3 linked regions of the Homo sapiens genome follow. The protein of the gene in region 1 interacts with the protein of each later gene in a pairwise test. Each region holds a gene or a part of one and is shown on either strand. Other genes may lie near its edges. The genes, in order: IRAK4, IL36RN and ZNF597.

Region 1 (7,939 bases):
TTCAAGATTTACTTTAGTACACTTAGGATTAACACAGGTGGAACAGGATATGTTGCTTACAAATAAGTAAATACCTTCATGACTGTTTCCTCATACCACTAACTCTCATAGTAAAGAAAACCCATTCATATTTTCAAGTAAGACAATTCAGACAAGTGTAAAAGGTGGGGTGGTGATTGAGAAATATATTAAAATAAGCACCTGCTTATGGAATCCAATGCCTTCCCAAAGTACTGTGCCCAAAACAGGAGGGCAAAAGATTCTTGTCAAATGTGTTAATAAAGTTTTAAGACTGCTTCATTAGCACTTTGATCAGAGGAAAAGATTGTGCAGGGGTGGAGGGAAGATGAACTTTGAGGTTGCACAGGCCTAAGTTCTAACCAAAGCCAACTGTGACCAGAGCTAGTAAATACATTTCTCTGCACCTTGCTTTTCTTTATCTGAAAAACAGAGATAGTAATACCTAAGAATTGCTGTAAGAATTAAAATCAACACATGCAAAGGGCCAAATCTTGTCACATAATAATAGGTGGTCAAAAAAAAAAAGGAGCAATTATTATTTCCTGGCAGAAATTATTCTTATATCACATTATTTTTAAAGATATGTGCAGACTGTATTTAGGTTCAATTTCCAGAACAGTAGTGAGGATCTACTGAAAGCGTACAAATAACAAGTCTGAGAAAATAGCTAAGCTTTTGAGATGGTGGCTGTCTTATTTGATCAACCATGGTAATTTTAATGTATTTATATCCTTTCTAAAATACACTATTTACTTCCATATATTCTTAGCAAAATATGCTGTATAACCATTAATCTTTATTTTTAGATACTTTAACATCATCATTATGAACAAAAGCTGGTGAGGGCTTCCAGAGCTATTAAATTAGATAGGGCTGCCTATTACAAACTGGGATATGTGCTGGTGTACCATAAATTAAACTTAACATATCTTTCTTGAACATTGATCCAACACAACAGTAAGTAATTGAAAATGCTTTGCATATATTTAAAAAACAAAATATAATACCATTGACTCACCAAATATTTACTGAGTGTCTACTTTGTGCTAGATACTGCTCCAGGCCCCTGGAGATGAAGCATTAGGAAAATTAGAGAAAAAAAACAAAACAAAACCAAAACCTGAATTCATGGAGTTTATATTCTAATGGAGGAAGGAAGGCAATAAGCAAATAAATAAACTCTATAGTATGTTAGATGGTGCCAAGTGAAATGAAAGAACAAAACGAAATAGAGAAAAGGTTGTAATTATAAATATGGTAGTCACAGGAAGCCTCAATAAGAAGGTGCCATTTGATTAAAGGTCAAAAAGAAGGAGAAAGCCAGCCACTGGACTATCTGTGGGAAAAGTTTGTGGACAAAACGAAATGTAAATGCAAAGGTTGGAACTGGGCCCACTGGGCAACAGCAAGGACATGGTGAGACTGCAGAGGAGGGAACAGGCAAGTAGCAGATGAGGTCAGAAAGGTAAAGGGGCCAGGTCTTCAAGGGCCTTAGAGTTTTTGTATTGACTTTGTTTATCCTCTGGGTGAGATGTAGATGCTGGAAGTTTTGAGAAAAGAGACATGCTCTGTACTCATGTCTTAGAAGGATACTGGGGCTGCTGGGAATAAAGGATGTTGGAGTAAGGACAGAGAAGCAAGAAAGAAGCATTTAGGAGAGCCTACCAATAAGCCAGGTGGGACGTGCTGCAGGCTGGGACCAGGGTCGTAGCAGAGCAAGTGCAGAAGTCCTAGGATTCTGAGGTGGAGCCAATAGAAAGCTATGGGCTGATGTGGAGAGTGAGAAGACAGCATAACCAAGTTTACCGATATTTACTGAGATAGAGAAGGCTGAGGAAGGAGCAAGTTTGGCCTGGAATATCAGAAGCTCAGTTTGGAGAGGTAGAAAGCAAACTTCAAATGAACGCTCTGCAGGAAAACAGAAGAAATTTGAACTTCCCGATAGCCCTCTTCAAGGACCACTCCAAGAAAGGGAAAAGGCAGATTTTAGTATCCTCTGCTTACCAGGGGCCTTGGGCAGTTACGTTTTTGAAGCACTAATAGCGCCGTTTGTTCCCATTCTAAATGCTCAAAGTGCTTTCTCGCTTTCTCAGGGTTTGCTTTTTTTTTTTTTTTTTTCTTTTGAGACGGAGTCTCCCTCTGTTGCCCAGGCTGGAGTGTAGTGGCACGATCTCGGCTCACTGCAACCTCTGCCTCCTGGGTTCAAGCGATTCTCCTGCCTCAGCCCCCGGAGTAGCTGGCATTACGGGCGCCCGCCACTATGCCAGCTAAATTTTGTATCTTAGTAGAGACAGGGGTTTCACCATGTTGGCCAGGCTGGTCTCGAACTCCTGACCTCAAGCGATCCGCCCGCCTGGGCCTCCCAAAGTGCTGGGATTACAAGCATGAGCCACCGCACCTGGACAGGGTTTGCTTTTATCCCTTTGTCTCCCTCTGGCTTCCAAGCTGACAGGTACACTTTTTTCCCCCATCTGCGAATGTACTCATCTGATCCCATAAGCCGCCTCCACTTTCTAATTCCCTGGAAGCTTGGAGGCCGGAGAAACAAGCGAATTACAATCGTGTGGAGGCTCAGCGAGCTGCTGGCGCCACAGGCATCTGTCAGGTGCTGGCCTGACTTCCTGGTTCTGGGGAAAAGAGACTTCATTTCGCAGTCGGGTTCACGGAATCCAGGGCCTGAGAGGTGAGAAACTTGAGGTCCGACTGCGCCCCAGAACAGCTGGGTGACGTCCCTCCAAGCCTCAGGCTCTTCCTCAGGGCCGACGAACTTCTTGATTACCGGGGACCTACCCAAGTCTTTCTTCTGGAGTAAGCTCTGTCAAAGGAACCCACTTCCTCTCTAACTTTTCTCACGGATGATAAAGAGATTTCCGTTCCGCAGCCGACCCCAGCAACCCTGGGGCAGAGGTGCCGAGGCCTGGAAGCGGACCTCGGACGACGTTTGACCGAGGCATTAAGGCGGGGAATGCCTTACCTGCCCGGGCGCGGGCTGCTGAAGCCGGCGACAGAAGAACCAGCCGAACTAGGAAGCGCCGCGAAGGGGCGGGGCCTGCCGGGTTGGCCCCGCCCCACTTCCCCGATGGGCTTCATCTTGGCGCCTCCAGGCGGCTCCACAAAGTGAGAAACTCCACGTATTGCGTAGGGCGCGTCTTTACGTGGGCGCCTGCCCCTTTAATTACGCCCCTGTCGGAGGCTGAAACACTTAAGGCTTCCGGGCATGCGCACAGCGTTGTGCAAATGAATGCCTTCCACTGAACCGAGGTAGACGGGGTCGAGTTTCTTGCGCGATGGTGGGCTTGTATGTGTGTGTGTGTGTGTGTGTGTGGGGGGGGGGGGTGACGAGGTTGGCATTGAGGATCCATACCCTTTGCGCCCAAAGAAAGGTGACGTGGACTAGTGTCGTGCCTTTGGACAGGCAGAGTAAGAGGAGGGAGAAGAAACAGGTAGAGCTGCTGGCCTTGTCGGGGACACCTTTGGACGTGCTGGAGGGCAACGACGCCCTAGTTTTCTGTGAAGTTAAGTAGCTTCTGCAGGACTGGGTTCAGTATTTCTAGTACCTTCTCAGGATCCCTCCTCCGCCAACGAATTCCTCAACCACGGGCCAAGCAAACTACTCCCCCGCCCACTGTCAGCAGCAGTCTCTGTTGAATGGGAATACTGCACCTTCAGGCTTAACGCCACGTGGGCTCCTTTGCTGTCCTCCAGGTCAGTTCCACTCTTCTACCAGGATGCTGGAATTACATTCTCCCCAAGTTTCCCTACCTGTTTCACTTGCTTAGAATGTCTGTCTTCCTCCTTTTTTCTGGGAGAAAGAAAAGATCATTATTCTTTCAGGGCCAATCCCTACAGCTATGTTCTTGACCATGCTGTTTTGTTTTTGAACTCCTCTAACTGTTACTCCATCGGATACATCTTGCTCATTTCCATCAGAATCATCTTACAATTCCAAAAGCATGTTTTGGAATTGTGTCACTTTTCTACTCAAACACTAACAGTAGCCATCCATTGACCACCCAATAGATTCTAAGTCCTTGTCAGGGCATTCAACATCTTCCATAATCTGGTACTAACTCAGCTACATTTTCCAGCACTGTAGTCTCCCTGCATTCCCATCCCCACTGCTCTGTATCTGGACTGCTTGTTTTTCTTGCACACATTGCATGTTTTGTTTGTACATTACTTGTGAGGTCTCTGCCTCATTTCTATCTCTTGAACTATGGAGGACTTAGATGGCCACTTCTTGCATTATGCCTCTTCTAATTATCTTCCACTTCATTCCTACAGCTCTTATTTTGTACTAGTTATTTCATTTATTTAACAATAGTATTTATTGCAGACCTACCATGTGCTTGACACTGTTCAAAATGTGTGATCATCAGTAGTAAATAAGGCAGACAAGGTTACTCCTCACGTGGAACTAACATTCTCTTTGGAGGAGATATACAATAAATAATAAAGAAAAACTTTACCTAGAACTGCTATGCAGAAAATTAAATAGGGTTTTGTGAAAGAGAATCACTTGCTGGGCACGGTGGCTCACGCCTGTAACCCCAGCACTTTGGGAGGCCGAGGCGGGTGGATCACGAGGTCAGGAGTTCAAGACCACCCTGGCCAATATGGTGAAACCCCATCTCTACTAAAAAAATACAAGAATTAGCCGGGCGTGGTGGCGCGCCCCTGTGGTCCCAGCTACTCGGGAGGCTGAAGTAGGAGAATCGCTCGAACTCGGGAGGCGGAGGTTGCAGTGAGCCGAGATCATGCCACTGCACTCCAGCCTGGACGACAGAGTGAGACTTCGTCTCAAAAAAAAAGAGAATCACTTGCAGGTTCCTGTAGATTATTGGTCAGGAAAAACTTCTCTGAGGAAATGAATCCTAAAAGATGCAGCTATATGATTGGGGAGGGAACAATTTAAACAACAGGAACAGTTAGCACAAAACTATTGAAGAAGGCCAGAGTAGCTGGAGTATAGTGGGTAATGGGGTAAAGGTACAAATGAGTTTGGAGAATAAGCAGGGTCCCTAATCTTAGATGTCCTTGGAAGCCAGGGTGAGTAATTTGGATTTTATTGCAAATGTGACTAGAGGGTTTTAAACTGGATTGTGATATGATTTAATTTACCTTTTAAGACCATTCTGGCTGGTTTGTGGGCTAGTTATAGAAGCAGGAGTTAGGGACCTTCACAATATCTAAAAGTTTTTGGAATGGAAGTATTAAAGTTGGTGTGATAAAGGACATTGGGAGTCATAAGAATCAGATGCTTAAGGTTAATGCAGTTTTTGGAGATGAGAAAGTCAAAGTTATGACCGTGACAGTGGATGACCAAGATGAAGTAGAGGTGTGAGGTTGAGGTTGAGATTGAGGACTTGAGGGTCCAAGACATTGAATGGATGATCCATATAGATGATCATAAAAATCATGTTGGATAAGAAGGTAGTGAGCCAGAGATCAGTGAATGAAGCAGAGTTGTCTGGGGATCCGAGAGAGGATGACAGCAGATGGTAAAGCCCAATGGCAGGCTCTTCAAAAGAATTGGGGTTTTTGGAGGTAGTAGAGGAAGAAATGGCTTGCAACGAACAGTGACAAACATAGACCAATATTTACAGCCTCCAGGTCCTAAGGTAGATGGGTGGGAAAGAAAAAATAGCCTTTACTTGAGAGGACTGAAGAAGAAGCAGCCTGAAGAAATAGCCAGATTTCAATTAGGGCAAGAAAGTGAGGGAACTGTACAGGAAATTAAGTAATTAAGGAAAGTAAGTATATCTTATATATTCCTTAGGAAATTAGGATATGGAGAATTTGTAGTGATTTCTATATGGCATGATGGAAAGGATTGAGAAGGTGTGATTTGCTAAATTGGTTCAGATTAGTAGAATACATTATAGGTATGAGATGATGGTCCAGATGATGATAAGTTACTTGGAGAATGTGGGGGAAACACAGAACTCACTAGTATGGGGCCCCTGGGCAATTTATCTTTCCTGCAGCTCCATATGGTATGGTAGCCATGGGTTTGTGTGAAAAGTGAGAGATCAGAGTACTATTCTCTTGCATAGTGTTTCCAGGAAGCTCTGTAAGGGTTTCTTCTGTCTGATGCCAATGATATAGTTAGAACTTTCCTCTGGCTCAACCTTGAAAGCTTCTATTTGTCCTAATGGGGGCATTAGAGAAGGCCCAGGACTGACTTAATCCTACCTTGAAATATAATCAAATCACAAATTTGTATTTAGAACTTCATTTACCCATCAGTTTTCCTATTGTCTTTTTGTCACCTCTCCTGTCACTAACCACTAATAATATAAGAAAACTTAGCCACATGTTCTCTGGAATTAGCTGGAAATTTTAGGCTCCAGGAATGGAATTTGGACAAATCTTTGTTTTATAGTCCTGTGTTCTCACCTCTTCTTGTGAGCCTACAAATGATATTTTTAAGATAAAATTGACTCATTTTAATCCTGGATAATAGGTACAAATCTGGAGTGAGTGAAGATACAAGTTAACAAATCTTTAGCTATACCAGAAATAGTTTGCCTATTAATTCAGCTTGGTATAGGAGAGTCAAAGTACACAGGAAGTACATATAGTTATAAATTAAGTTAATGATACCATTTAAGAAGACTCAGAATTAAAAGAGAGACAGAATTAACTAAATCCTGCAAACCTATTCCTATTTGGTCATCCATAACTTCTCTTTCTGTTAACTAACCACCTCTTTGTTTTGTTTTCTAGGCACTGTTATAGAAGAATGGAAGAAGATACAGATTATAGAATCAGGTTTAGTTCTTTGTGTTTCTTTAATGATCACGTTGGATTTCATGGCACTATAAAAAGCTCACCAAGTGACTTTATTGTTATTGAAATTGATGAACAGGGACAGTTAGTTAATAAGACCATCGATGAGCCTATTTTCAAGATTAGTGAAATACAACTTGAGCCAAATAATTTTCCCAAAAAACCAAAACTAGATCTTCAAAATCTGTCCTTAGAAGATGGAAGAAACCAAGAAGTTCATACTTTGATTAAGTACACTGATGGTGACCAAAATCATCAGTCTGGTTCAGAAAAGGAAGATACTATCGTTGATGGAACTTCCAAATGTGAAGAAAAAGCTGATGTTTTAAGCTCCTTTTTGGATGAAAAAACTCATGAGTTACTGAATAATTTTGCCTGTGATGTAAGAGAGAAGTGGCTTTCTAAAACAGAGCTAATTGGACTACCTCCTGAATTCTCAATAGGCAGAATCCTTGACAAAAACCAGAGGGCTAGTTTACACAGTGCCATTAGGCAGAAATTTCCATTTTTAGTAACTGTAGGAAAAAACAGTGAAATTGTTGTAAAACCAAATCTTGAATATAAAGAACTTTGTCATTTGGTATCTGAAGAGGAAGCATTTGACTTTTTTAAATATTTGGATGCAAAGAAAGAAAATTCCAAATTTACCTTTAAACCTGATACAAACAAAGACCACAGAAAAGCTGTCCACCATTTTGTCAACAAAAAGTTTGGAAACCTTGTGGAAACCAAATCTTTTTCTAAAATGAATTGCAGTGCTGGTAATCCGAATGTGGTGGTAACAGTAAGATTTCGGGAAAAAGCACACAAACGTGGGAAAAGGCCTCTTTCTGAATGCCAAGAAGGAAAAGTTATATATACAGGTAATTTAATAAATCATCATCCATTTTCTTGGATAAGCTTAGCTAAATTTAAAATTGTGAAAATGAATTGAACAGACTTGGCTAGAGAGATTGGAAAGAATATATGATTTACCTTTAGGGAGAGGAATTGCTGATAAGCAATTTAAGCAACTCTAGGAATTCTTATTTATTCTGTTACTTACTAGAAGATGATAAAACCTTTTAAATTACACTGAATTTAAAAATTAGCCTTACTGATAACCTAGGCATTTATATTAGCCTAT
Region 2 (7,362 bases), on another chromosome or scaffold:
CCTCTAGTGTTAGAGTCGGCTCCTGCCCCACCCCACATGACAGGCACTGGCTTCCACCCTGGACACCCAGGATGACGGGGGACAGGCTGGCATCCAGCCACCGATTGGGGACCACGCTGATCTCTTCACCTGTGGGAAAGAGGCCAGATGCAGGGCCCTGGATGCCTTTCCCTCCTTCTTCCCCTGTCCTGGGCTCTAGGGCACAGGACTGCTGTAAGACGGCCTGCCCCCAGGCTGGGCAGAAGGGAGGCTTCTCAGCAGCTGTCATGACATGGCTTCTCCTGTCCACTGGCTCAGAGTGGACATCAAGGCATGGAAGCACATTGTACCACCTCCACTCCACCCTCTAGTTCAGGGTCAAATCTTCAAGCCTCTACACCCCAAAATAGATTCAACCCCCTCCTTTAATGTCCCTTGGGTCTCAGGCCTTTTTCTGAACCCTGTCTTGATAAGCCCCCCTTTGGAATTGTTTGGACAACTTTCTACACCCTGTGATGTTGCTGAGAGCAAAAGAGGGTCTCATTCCTCTCTGTACATCCCCTCACCACCCACATACATCAGATACATACATACACAGATACATGCATGCACACATATACATATACACACACATGCTCATACCTACATACCTGCACTCACACATACATGGTTACACACAGATACATGCATGCACACATGCTCACACATATATGCCTGCATGCACACATACATACACCAGTAAGCACACACATACACATATGGCCTAGCTGAAGGATCTACCTGGCATCTGTGCTCAGCAAGGGTGCCCCAGGTGGGCAGGTGCAAACTATTTTAGAGAGGGACGTGTTGCAGTGCATGGGGCAGAGTGAGCAAGCAGGAGGTCCAACAATGCCACCTGTTCTCTGGGTCCCTCCACTCTAAGTGACTGAGGATCTTCAGAGAGCAGAGGGGACCCAGGGTGGAGAGGCAGAAACCCACTCCCATATGGGAAAAAAGGTATAGAGAATCTACGTTAGTTCTCTCCTTGGTACTTACTGGCTCCCAGGGAATGCAATGCTTGACCTAAATCTACCTGTAAGGGAATGACAAGACAAGCCTCTTGGAAAACATTCCCACTTCTGCATAGAAGCTTCAGGTGGCCCCAGAGCCTGTGTCTTCACTTTGCTGAGAGGTGTAGTATTTTATTTGCCTTTGCTTAGAGCCTGGTTTGTGCTGCCCCAATGCCTGGGCTCTGTAGGCCTATGCTAATCTGTATGACTATTCTAAGCCCTCTTCAGGCCCCCTCCCCTGAGAGTGTATAGAGACCAAGGAAAGTGGGTCATGTTTCATCACCAACCTTTAATGACCTTCCCTGCATGCAGCCCTCCAGCTAGAAGCTGGTTATTATGCAGATAAAGCACCTTCAATGCCGAGTCCTTCATTCTGAAACATCAGGAAGGGGTGAGGACTACATTAGGAGGAGGGTGGACACTCCAGCATGCCCTGGATCCAGAGAACCCCCTGATCTCAGGCATTTTGTCTCTCTTTCTTCCTACTGTGCCAGAAGTAACAGCACAGCCTTGTCTCCCAGCCCTGCTGGGCTCATGCCCTACAAGGAGGATGACCCCACAGTCTCCCACTGGAGTCTGTGGTTTGCTCCTTCACCCTATTCAACCTTTTCTGCCCCAACCCATCTCCTGCTGGAAGAGAAGCTGCACGGTGAGTCAGAGCCCTAGGTTCTTGCCCCATCTCTGCCTCCAATGCTGCTGAGTCGCAGGAGACAACTCTCTCGCCCACTCTGGGCCTGAGCCTCCCCATTGCTACACTAAGATGATGGGTTGGATAACATCCAGGCCTCTTCCACGTTAAAGCCTGATTCTTCAATTCTTCAAGATACATGTATTTCTATTTGGTCATATATTCCTTACTAAGTGAGGAGTTTCTTTAAATTTAAATTTCTTTTATTTAACTTTTCAAAGTTGTTTCTCATCTTTGAACTCAGTTGATTTCCTGGCATCCTATGAGGTGGAAGATGTATCCTAAAGTGGGTTTCTCCAAAAGTTATATGGGGGAAAAGGATGCAGTGTAAAAATTGGGTCGATGCATGGCTAAATACAATTCAACAAGTTGCCTTACTTCAGAAAACCTCAGAGTCACTCATATGCTGAGCTGGGCTGTGGTTCTCTTATGAGAGGATGTAGAAAGCAGAATTCCCTGCATTTACTTGATCAGAGAGCTCCACTGTGTAAAGCATCTCCTGGATGCCTCTGTGGGACTCCTCTAATCGAGTCCCATAGAACACATCATGGGAAGTGCTTTATTAGACTGAGAGAAAGGACCACTCTCATCCTCTGTTGTAAAGCCCAGAACACGGCAGAGTGTCTGGCTTGGTACATGCCAGTGGGTGGACAGACTGACTGATGGTAATGGTTTTTGTTTTATTATTATCCCCAAAGAGTAGCAGGGAGGCAGGGGCACAGAGTGGGTGAGCTTACATCCATTCACTGTGATGGGGGACAATGGCGGAGCTCTGAGCAGGGATCCTGGCCCCCGTTCCCACCTTGGATAGACTTGGCTGGAGCTCTAGACTGGGAGGTTCACTTATCCCCCTCAGCATCAGGGACCCCTTGTGAGATGGCCTGCCCCAGTCCTGCCCCTATTTGAAAAAGGCTGGGAAAACTCTAAGAGCAGTGAGGTGCTGGTCACAATTTCCCAGCTGCAATGGCAGCCCCTCCCTTCCTCCCTCCTGCTCAGAGCTGGACAACGGGTCTATCCAGAACTCACTTCCTCCGGAGGACACCACCAAACCAGGGCCTCATACACTCACCGGAAGCACAGCGCCCCACTCAGGACCATCTTGAGCTCCACAGGGTGTAGACTCCCCTATTTTGGAATAAACAACAGAAAATCATGGAGAGAGAGGCTGAGTTGGCTGGGGTCTGGGGAGCAAGCAGCTGCACCGAGCTCCCCAGCATGTGAACAGCCTCCACGGAGCAGATTCTGGGTCTGGGGTCAGGAGAGAGCTCCGGTACCACCAGCGCCCCAGAGCATACCTCAGAATGTTCCTTTCTCCTGGCGGGAGCTGTGGAGTCTGCCTGTTCCTCCAAGGATGCCTCAGCCTTTTAAGTAAGGCCTAGGGAGGGGCCCTGAAACTGCCAGGACCTGAGGAGGAGCAGGATTCCCAGCGTGATTTCACATCACCCTAAGTCGCCAGAAGCACTTGCTGCTCATTATCTGTCGTGGGGAGGGAAGCTTCTGGAGACAGTTTCCTTCCAGAAATATTGAAGAACTTCCTTGAGGCTTTCCAGCTCTTTGTGAGCACTAGGCTTTTGCATCTCAGGGGCTTTCAGACCCTAAGAGTCAGTGCCCATGGCAGCTCAAGGGAAGCGCGACTTTCTTTCCTCCCTGCCTCCCTCCCTTTCTTCCTTCTTTCCATCTTTCATTCACTCACTCCCTCCCTTTTCCCTTCCTTTCTTCCCTCCCTCTTTCCTTCCTTTCCTTCTTTCCCTTCCCATTTCCTCCCTTCCTCCCCTATTCCCTTTCTTCCTTACCTTTTTCACTCCTTCCTTCACTCCTTCCCTTCTCCCTCCTTCCTTCCTCTGTCTTTCCTGCCTGCCATTGCCAGGCCTACAGGAGATGTTAGAGGTGGGACTCTCCTGCTTAGGGAATGTTCAGCCTACATGTTCATTGTAGAAAAACCTGAAAATCCAGATCAGCCACAAGAAAAAATGTGAATACTTGTCTTTTCTGAGTGCATCATCAGAAAACCAATGACAACACTATTTCCTCCACACACATACACATGTAACTATAGACAGCTTTCATACAACAGATTCACAAAACCTATACTTTTTCCAACCTCATTTTTTCATGTGGCAAAATAGCAAAATATCTTTCCATACTAAATATGAATAATGACATGCTTCAATAGCTGTATAGTATTTAACTGTATCACTGTAACATTATTTATTGAAACCTATCCACTGTTATTTGTCTTTTATATATTTTTCTCTCTTTTTTTGCTATTGAAAACCATGTTGTGACAAACATCTTTGTATTAACATCTTTGCTCATGTATCTGGTTATTTCTTTAGAAAGTAAAATCTAGCTCATGCCATCTATAATTCTGTAAGTGATCTTTCTTGAATACCTAATTGATAAGATAATACTTAATTGTGAAACAGTTAATGCAGTTTAAATACCTCCATGCACTCTCTGTGATGGATCTGAAATAAAGGTAAGGGTCAGTGCACAAAAAACAATTTAATTATATCTTGAATAACACAGATAACTATTTATTAATAATTTATTGTTAAAGCATACACTTTTTTTTTAAGTTTTATTTTTCTTTTTTCTTTTATTATTATTATTATACTTTAAGTTTTAGGATACATGTGTACAATGTGCAGGTTTGTTACATATGTGTACATGTTAAAGCGTACATTTTAAAGAAATGGTATTCAGACATATGAGCCAAGAGGTCCTACAAGTGTTCAAGAATAAATAAAATATCAAGTTGTTCAAAACACAGAAAATAATCTACGATTTTCATAATGCCACTAATATGATAGACACTTTTCAGAAAAATAAAATTAATGTAGAAACTGCCTTGTACAAAATTATTAAATTACAAATTGACCAAATGGAATGACAGTAGAAATAAGATGAAATGAGACAAGCCTGGCCAACGTGGCAAAACCCCATCTCTACTGAAAACACAAAAATTAGCCGGGTTGGTGGTGCACATTTGTAATCCAAGCTACTCAGGAGGCTGAGGTGTGAGAATTGCTTGAACCTGGGAGGTGGAGGTTGCAGTGAGCCAAGATTGAGCCACTGTACTCCAGCCTGGATGACAGAGAGAGCTAGACTCTGCCTCAATAAATAAATAAATAATAAGTAAAATGAAACTATGACTGTGTATACTGTCAATATTATATGAAAACATTATCAAACAGGCCTCACCAACAATAAGTTCTCTCTGGACCTATCCCTTTGCTTGACTTACTAATTAGGTCTCAGACTCTGTGAAATTAGCCATGAACTAAGAGAACATTGATAAATTACACATTATTCCTGTCTGATAGAAAAGATAACTCCAAAGGGTGCAGTTTTATTGCCTCACAAGTCATAAAGCTGTCTTTAAAACGTAACTTAGCCAACCTATTTCAGCCTTTATTTCTTGACTGACGGTATAAGCCTCCATTCCCTGAATTATCTTTTGATAATCAGCTTTATAATCTTGCTGATTCCCTCACTTATGAAAAATAGTAAATCTTTGACACATGCTCACTATATGTGTGTATGAGAGTCAAGTTTTGAACTTCTGAAAAATAAACTTTGGCACTACCTAAAGACAATGCTGCCAATTCGCAAACCATGTGTGGCTGTTTTAAAATATGTCCATAAATTCTTGGAAACTTCATCTTTAAGAAGGTGATATGGTTTGGCTCTGTTCCCACCCAAATTTCATCTTGAATTGTAGCTTCTATAATTCCCACGTGTCATGGAAGGAACCCAGTGGGAGGTAATTGAATCATGGGGGCAGGTCTTTCTTGTGCTGGTCTCATGATAGTGAATAAGTCTCACAAGATCTGATGGTTTTATACAGGGGAATTTCCCCACACAAGCTCTCCTGCCTGCCACTATGTAAGACATGACTTTGCTCTTCTTTCATCATCTTCCACCATGATTGTGAGGCCTCCCCAGCCATGTGGAACTCTAAGTCAATTCAACCTCTTTCCTTTATAAATTACACAGTCTTGGTTATGTTGTTATTAGCAGCATGAGAACAGACTGATATAGTAAATTGATACTGGGAGTGGGGCGCTATGTTACATGATGAACATGGCAGCATCATAAAAGGCATTGCAATTTCCTCCTAGCTCTTAGATCACTCACCTGGACAAAGCCAGCCACTATGTGATAAGGACACTCAAGCAGCCCTATGGAGAGGCCCACGTGGTGAGAAACTATTTTTTCCTGCCAACAGTCTGTGAATGCACAATCTTAGAAGCAGATCCTCTAGCCCCAGTCAAGCCTTCAGATGACTGCAACCCTGGCTGACATCTTTCCTGTAACCTAATGAGACACCCTGAGCCAAACCCTCCAGCCAAGCCAGTTTTCTCATTCCTGACTCTCAGCCTTTGTTAAATAATAATTTTTTCTTGTTTTAAGCTGCTAACTTTGCTGATACTTTGTTACACAACAATTGGTAACTAACACACCTTGACATCACTATTGGCATTTCAGCACTTTAACACTTTGCCTGTTACCCAGCAATTTGGAACTGGGTAAAAGGCAGAGGTTGGAACAGTTTGGAGGGCTCAGAAGAAGATAGGAGGATGTGGGAAAGTTTGCAACTTCCTGGAGACTCACTGAATAGCTTTGACCAAAATGCTGATAGTGATATGGACAATAAGGTCCAGGCTGAGGTGGTCTCAGATGGAGATGAGGAACTTGTTGGGAACTGAAGCAAAGGTGACTCTTGTTATGCTTTAGCAAAGAGACTGGCAGCATTTTGCCCCTGACCTAGAAATCTGTGGAACTTTGAACTTGAAAGAGATGATTTAGGGCATCTGGCAAAAGAAATTTCTAAGCAGCAAAGTATTCAAGAGGTGATTTGGGTGCTGATAACATTCAGTTTTATGTATTCACAAATATATGGTTTGGAATTGGAACCTACATTTAAAAGGGAAGCAGAGCATAAAAGTTTGGAAAACATGCAGCATGAAGATGAGATAAGAAAAACCTATTTTCTGAAGAGAAATTCGAGCTGGCTGCAGAAATTTGCATAAGGAAAGAGGAGCCAAATGTTTTTCACCAAGAAAATGGGGAAAGTGTCTCCAGGGCATATCAGAGGTCTTCACAGAAGCCCCTCCCATCACAGACCTGGAGGTCCAGGAGGAAAAAATGGTTTCATGGGCCAGACCCAGGGCCTGGCAGCTTTGTGTAGTCTCAGGACTTGGGATGACTTGCATCCCAGCCACTCCAGCTTTGGCTAAAGAGGGCAAAGGTACAGCTTGGGTCATGGCTTTAGAGGGTGTAAATCCCAACCCTTGGCAGCTTCCATGTGGTGTTGAGCCTGTGGGTGCACAAAAGTGAAGAACTGAGGTTTGGGAGCCTCCGCCTAGATTTCATAGGATGTTTGGAAATGTCTAAATGTCCAAGCAGAGGTGTGCTGCATGGGCATAGCCCTCATGGAGAACCTCTGCTAGGGCAGTGCAGAAGGGAAATGTGGGGTGGGAGCCCCCACACAATGTCCCCACTGGGGCATTGTCTAGTGGAACTGTGAGAAGAGGGCCACTGTCCTCCAGATCCCAGAATGGTAGATCCACCAACAGCTTATGCTGTGTGCCTGGAAAAGCCACAGACAGTGTCAGCCCATGAAAGCAGCCAGGAGGAGGG
Region 3 (6,920 bases), on another chromosome or scaffold:
CAAAAAATTAGCTGGGCATGGTGGCAGGCGGCTGTAGTCCCAGCTACTCGGGAGGCTGAGGCAGGAGAATGGCGTGAACCTGGGAGGCGCGGTTTGCAGTGAGCAGAGATCGTGCCACTGCACTCCAGCCTGGGCAACAGAGCGAGAGTCTGTCTCAAAAAAAAAAAATCATCTCATATTTTAAAACTTTTTCTCTCACACAATTATCACCTCCACATAAATTACTGAGGGACAGGTCCCACTCCACCATACCAACATCTGGATAAAGCATGAAGTTCTCCTCCTAGAATTGACAAAAGTTCCAGATGCAGGAAAAACAATTGCCTTACCCATCAAAGCCGCATCCTCCAAAGACTCTTTTGTACCATCTTTGCTGAGGGACCTCTGGGCAGGGTGCAGAGTCACGCACTCCTCTTGAGAAAAATACACAGCCAGATCCTCAAAGAGTATTGGTCCCTGAAACACAAGAGCCTGTGTCAGCACAAGAGGGTGGAGGGTCAGCCCCTCACTTAACCTAGGAAGGATGAAAAGAGCTAGAAACATCAGATGCACGGGATAAAAGGCTCGGTGTAAAAGGTTCTTGAGCGCAGAAGTAGGGCAAATGGGTTCTAAGGGGTGGGGTGAGGGTTGGGAAGAAGAGAGTAAACATGGACATACATTTTTAGGCAGTGGTACAAGGACGGTGGACTGTGAGAATTATTGTCTATCTTGAAAGAGAAAAGATGAGGGAATGGCTCTTAGGGAGGCAACCATTAAGTGAGGATGCTCTAAGAAAAGGAGAGGTTTGGGGCCGGGTGTGGTGGCTCATGCCTGTAATCCCAACACTTTGGGAGTCTGAGGGGGATGCAGATGACTTGAGGTCAGGTGTTCGAGACCAGCCTGGCCAATATGGTGAAACCCTGTCTCTACTAAAATTACAAAAATTAAGGCTGGGCACAGTGGCTCACGCCTGTAACCCCAGCACTTTGGAAGGTGGAGGCGAGTGGATCACCTGAGGTCAGGAGTTCAAGACCAGCCTGACCAACATGGTGAAATTCTGTCTGCACTAAATACAAAAAATTAGCCAGGTGTGGTGGCGCATGCCTATAATCCCAGCTACTTGGGAGGCTGAGGCAGGAGAATCATTTGAACCTAGGAGAAAGAGGTTGCAGTAAGCCGAGATTGCACCATTGCACTCCAGCCTGGGCAACAAGAGTAAAACTCCGTCTCAAGCAGAGCTTGCAGTGAGCTGAGATCGTGCCACTGCACTCCAGCCTGGGCAACAGAGCGACACTCCATCTCAAAAACAAAAACAAAAACAAAACAACAACAAAAAAAACTCTGTCTCAAAAAATAAATTAAAATAAAATGAAATTAGCCAGATGTGGTGGCATGCGCCTGTAGTCCCAGCTACTTGGGAGGCTGGGCCAGGAGAATCGTTTGAATCCAGGAGGCAGAGATTGCAGTGAGCCGAGATCGCGCCATTGCACTCCAGCCTAGGCGTCGCAGCGAGACTGTCTCAAAAAAAAAAAAAAAAAGAAAAGAAAAGGAGAAAGTTGGGCAGCCCAGGAAGAATCATAAAGAGATAAAGGTTACAGGATTCTCCCAACATCCTTCCCTTTGCTATTTCCTCTCGTCCCCATGACACTCATTGCTAAGCTCACTCCAGCACTTCATCCAGGCCTACCCCACCTTCTCTAACGGTGTGATAAATTAATCACTTGGGATTTATTATTACTCAACGAGTGTGGAGTCTAGAAATGTGCTTAATTTAAAAATTCATTCAAATTGGAGAAGTACCAAATCTGTAATTTTGGGAACCATTCCAGAAAGTCACTTTTAATCCTAGCACTTTGGGGAGCCGAGGTGGGAGGATAGCTGAAGGCCAGGAGTTCCTTGGCAAAGCAGCAAGACTCCATCTCCATAAAGAAGTTTTAGGCCGGGCGCAGTGGCTCACACCTGTAATTCCAGCACTTTGGGAGACCGAGGCGGGCGGATCACAAGGTCAGGAGATTGAGACCATCCTGGCTAACACGGTGAAACCCCGTCTCTACTAAAAATACAAAAAATTAGCAGGGCGTGGCGGCAGGCGCCTGTAGTCCCATCTACTCGGGAGGCTGAGGCAGGAGAATGGCATGAACCCGGGAGGCGGAGCTTGCAGTGAGCCGAGATCGCGCCACTGCACTCCAGCCTGGGCGACAGAGCGAGACTCTGTATCAAAAAAAAAAAAAAAAGAACTTTTAAAAGTAGCCAGACACTGTGGTATGCGCGCCTCTCAGATACTCGAGAGGCTGAGGCGTAAGGATTCCCTGAGTTCCAGACGGAGCTATGATATCAGCACTGCACTCCAGCCAGACAAGCAACACTCCAGCGACAAGGCCAGACCCTATCTCCAAACAAAACAAAACAAACAGATAAGACATTGAGAAACTCTCTCAGAGATTCCTCCACAGGTCCCTGCTCCCAGTTGGTAGTTCTGAAAGAAGGAAGTTGGTAAACCATTATGTGTGTGGTCTTGGAACGAAGAACACTTGGTCAAAGGGCTATTTGGGGCTCAGGAGCACTCCTACCACAACAGGCATGCCCAACTCTCCTCCAAAGGAGGGGGTCAGGCAGAGACCGAAAGCAGCAATAAACTTGGACGAAAAAGGTACCTCGACTCACCTGGGCCTCGGGCGTCGGGGGCATGGACGCCATTTGGCGGGTGGGGAATGCCTTCTTCAAGACGCCACAGGGACTTCGTGACAAAGCTGCGGGGGGAGAGAACAGTTCTTAAAGGGACCAATTCCGCTGCCAAGTTCCTCCACTACCCCTAGCCTCCCTCGATTCCCTCCGAACCCCCCCTTAAAAACCTACGCCGACTGCTCCTCCTCTTGGCCCGGCCTCGAAAGGGGCCCACTTACCGCTCCGCGGTTAATAACAGGCCTCGCGCTCCCTGACAGGAGCTGCAGAAAGCGACGCCCGACCGAGACGCGACGAAGAACGCCACGGCCACTGCAAAACTCCCACGCTCTCATGCTCCTTTACGCAGGAGCTGCGGGAAAAGCCGCCGGAAGCGACCCGCCCTCAGCCCTCTCCGCCATCCTGCCCTTTGATTGGTCGAAGTTCTCCCGAAGGGGAAGTCCTTCTTTTGTGTTGACCAATTGAACACCTTAACCGAGGACCTGTAGCCACTGGGCAGCTGCGAGAGGTAGTTTTCCTCCTTTTCTCTAAGCAACCATTTCCGCTTCCGCTGGCGGGGTCTCCTCCGTGAGCTCCGGGCCTGTTTGCCTGCTGAAGTAGAGTCTTAGGGTGACCCCAGGGGGACGTAATGTTTCCGAGAAGAAGGACAGAAAGAAGACTGGGAGACACCGGAACTCGAAAGAAAATCGGTAACAAAATGTGGGTTCGGCCAACAGTGCCCTGTAGGCCTGAAATTTCGGTCTGGCCAGAGCAAGGTGATTGAGAGGGCGGGGGTTCGGGCCTAGCCTGGGCTTGAGCTGTCCTTTGTGTCTTGAGCGGATGGTGGGGCCGTGGAACATGAAGGAGTATCTTTGTGTACGTTCACAACGTTCACATCGGTGTAGGCCAGGTTGCTGGACTCTGACTCAAAGTGTTATAGAGGCATTACGTATTGTACCCGCAGCTGCAGCCTAAGCGAGCTGCTTCAGCTTCCTAGTCACAGGATCCCACGCGAGAATAGAGCCATAGGTTAGCGTCGCAGGACGTTGTTCGCCCCCGGATACCTCACATGCAGCCTACCCTAGAGCCAGTCATTTCCTATTGTGTGCTGGGGGAGGAGGGAGTGCCCTGGTGTAGGCATTTGGAATTGGAAAATTGAGCTCCTCCCCAAGCTCTGCCACTGATTGGTTGGTAATCTTGGCCAGTTTACAACTTTGCTTTCCTCAGCTGCAAACAGCTCAGAGTGCCTCTCTGGGCTAACTCAGAGGGTAATTTCAAAGATTATAAGATAATGTAAGTGAAAGAAATTGCCAGTTTATAAAGGTGTTTGGGGAAAAAAAAAGACGAAAATGATAGGTACCTTGATAGAAAAGCCTGAAAAGTCTCAACATATTTCCTTATTCCAGTGCCAGGCACATTCCTGTATCTAAAAGCTTAATGAATGGCTGCATGGTTATTAAAACAATATTAGGAGATTTGACAACTTAGGTAATGTGATTTTGTGGAATATCTGATAGGATAGTTTCAGCTACAAGTAACAGAAAACCCACCGAAAGGATGTTCAAAGAGCAGTTACAGGTTGGTTAATTCGGTGGCCCAGTGACAACATCAAGGTCCCAGTGCTTCTCTGCCACCCTAAGCATGTTGGTAACGTTGACAATAGAATCCAGGTAAAATATACAGACATGTATTGTGTCATGTACCCATCCTAAACTAGTTATTACCAAGAATAAATAATTGTTTGGGGCCCATCATGCTTCAGCCCCTGTCACTAGGGGAAGGACCTAGCCTCCCTTGATAATCTACCTGCACAAAATTAGGGCTTTGTTACAAATGAAAAAAAGAGATGTGGAAAATAAGTTAGATAAGAAACTAGCAGTATCTGCCACAAATGATATCTCTTGACAGCTAACTAAGAGCTAGACCTTGTGGGGATGGATCACAAAAGAGGTAGCTGTGAAGTCCCAGTAAAGGTGCTTCCAGGACAGGTGGAAGAATGGTAAGAACAAACTTGCCTACAGGCTAGACCAGTCCAAAGCATATATGTTGAAGAAGAGCTAATAGCCTGTATATGAAGGTGTAAGTAAAGGAGATGTTCATGGTTGAGTCACTGTGGTGTTCACGTAGTCATCTTTCCCTTCTTGGTTTGTGCTTATCTCTTTTTTTTTTTTTTTTTTGAGACAGTCTCACTCTGTAGCCAGACTGGGGTGCAGTGGCACAATCCTGACTCACTGCAACCTCTGCCTCCGGGGTTCAAATGATTCTCCTGCCTAAGCCTCCTGAGTAGCTGGGACTACAGGTGCCCGCCACCACGTCCGGCTAATTTTTTTTTTTTGTATTTTTAGTAGAGATGGGGTTTCATCATGTTGGCCAGGATGGTCTCGATCTCGTGACCTCATGATCCACCTCGGCTTCCCAAAGTGCTGGGATTACAAGCGTGAGCCACCGCGCCCCGCCTATTTAATGCTATTCTTACATCAGCACTGTCTCATTGTGGTCTGAGATTCTCCTTATCTGGATTTGTGGCTCTTTCACCAAGAACAAGAGACTCCCGTGGCTCTCTTCTTTAAATCCTGTTGCCATAATTACAAAGAAATAAACACAGTTTCCAATGCTTTGAAATGAAGCATGTGGTATTAACTCAGTGGATTACCAGAGAGAGAGGGATATACCTGAAATGGGAGAGGAAAAAATCTTCCCTAGACTATCTTTCCTAAGAGCCATCAAAACTATAAACAAGTGGACAAAGAAGGAGGAAGCTTGAAAGCTTTATCTTCCTGAAAATAAAGAGATGACATACAAAGTCCAAGATAGACCAAGATTGAAAAATTAGACCACATTATATCCCTAACTCAATTTTGTAAAAAATCACAAATGCTTGACTGTATACCCACTATATGTTCAAGTAACATGTTTTAATCATCAAAATTTAAAAATCCTTCCACGACAATCTTTTGCAAGTTTTTCCATTTCTGTCTTTAACATGGTACCAGTAATAACAACTACAACCTGTTTGTATTGAAATTATTTCTATAGCCCAGCATCTGCTTTCTCTGAAAATTATCTTTTTAAAAATAGTAAAACTAACATCATTACAAAAGTAGTATATGTGCATTTCAGAAAGTTAGGAAAGGCTGGGTGCGGTGGCTCACGCCTGTAATCCCAGCATTTTGTGAGGCTGAGGTGGGCAGATCACAAGGTCAGGAGATCGAGACCATCCTGGCTAACACGATGAAACCCCATCTATACTAAAAATACAAAAAATTAGCCAGGCGTGGTAGCGGGCACCTGTAGTCCCAGCTACTCGGGAGGCTGAGGCAGGAGAATGGCGTGAACCTGGGAGGCGGAGCTTGCAGTGAGCCGAGATCACACCACTGCACTCCAGCCTGGGTGACAGAGTGAGACTCTGTCTGAAAAAAAAAAAAAAAAGAAAATACAGGGGAAAAAATGGCAACACATTCCTGTCACCCAGAGATCACCACTATTTACTCTTTATTATTTGTTTTTTTTTTTTTGAGACAGTCTCACTGTTGCCCAGGCTGGAGAGCAGTGGTGCGATCTCTGCTCACTGCAACTTCCGCCTCCTGGGTTCAAGTGATTCTTGTGCCTCAGCTACCAGAGTAGATGAGATGATGGGCAGATGCCACCACAACCATTTAATTTTTGTATTTTTAGTAGAGATGCAGTTTTGCCATGTTGGCCAGGCTGGTCTCAAACTCCTGGCCTCAAGTGATCCGCCCATGTCAGCCTCCCAAAGTGCTGGGATTACAGGTATGAGCCACCGCACCTGGCCTGCTCACTGCAACCTCCATCTCCCAGGTTCAAGCAATTCTTCTGGCTCAGCCTCCCGAGTAGCTGGGACTATAGGTGCGTACCACCACACCTGGCGAATTTTTGTATTTTTAGTAGAGGACGGGTTTTCCCCATATTGGCCAGGCTGGTCTCGAACTCCTGACCTTGTGATCTGCCCGCCTTGGCCTCCCAAAGTGCTGGGATTACAGGCGTGAGCCCCTGCCCCCGGCCCCTATTCTTAAGTATATATCTTTTCCCTAGTGATTTTTATGATGATGCAGCTGTATATTGAAACGGAAAGATACTCATTTTTGGGAGTAAAATTGGTTATGAAACAAAAACAATAACAAAGTTGCTTTTGAAGACTATGCGTTAAAATGGTAGTGGTAGTTATATTTTTAATTTTTATGGGTACATAGTAGGTGTATATATTTATGTGGTACATGAAATATTTTGATGCAGGCATGCAATGTGTAATCACTTCAAGG

Evidence for each region.
Region 2: the proteins of IRAK4 (region 1) and IL36RN interact in binary tests that used the Homo sapiens proteins (3 or more experiments, as listed by UniProt).
Region 3: the proteins of IRAK4 (region 1) and ZNF597 interact in binary tests that used the Homo sapiens proteins (3 or more experiments, as listed by UniProt).

What each region holds. Positions count from the first base shown.
Region 1 is NC_000012.12:43,754,073-43,762,011, reverse strand, and holds the start of IRAK4 (interleukin-1 receptor-associated kinase 4), read right to left. Parts: upstream 3,062-7,939; 5' UTR 2,996-3,061; exon of another isoform or gene 2,026-2,995; intron 1,088-2,025; exon of another isoform or gene 1,040-1,087; intron 1-1,039. Other genes in the region: pseudouridylate synthase PUS7L, read left to right, coding at 3,309-3,319, 6,751-7,676.
Region 2 is NC_000002.12:113,054,891-113,062,252, reverse strand, and holds the start of IL36RN (interleukin-36 receptor antagonist protein), read right to left. Parts: upstream 3,056-7,362; 5' UTR 3,012-3,055; intron 2,842-3,011; 5' UTR 2,815-2,841; coding exon 2,786-2,814; intron 1,402-2,785; coding exon 1,316-1,401; intron 130-1,315; coding exon 2-129; intron 1-1. UniProt on the Homo sapiens protein: Inhibits the activity of interleukin-36 (IL36A,IL36B and IL36G) by binding to receptor IL1RL2 and preventing its association with the coreceptor IL1RAP for signaling.
Region 3 is NC_000016.10:3,440,478-3,447,397, forward strand, and holds the start of ZNF597 (zinc finger protein 597), read right to left. Parts: upstream 3,028-6,920; 5' UTR 2,883-3,027; intron 2,730-2,882; 5' UTR 2,677-2,729; coding exon 2,644-2,676; intron 457-2,643; coding exon 330-456; intron 1-329. Other genes in the region: NAA60 (N-alpha-acetyltransferase 60), read left to right, coding at 3,290-3,350. UniProt on the Homo sapiens protein: May be involved in transcriptional regulation.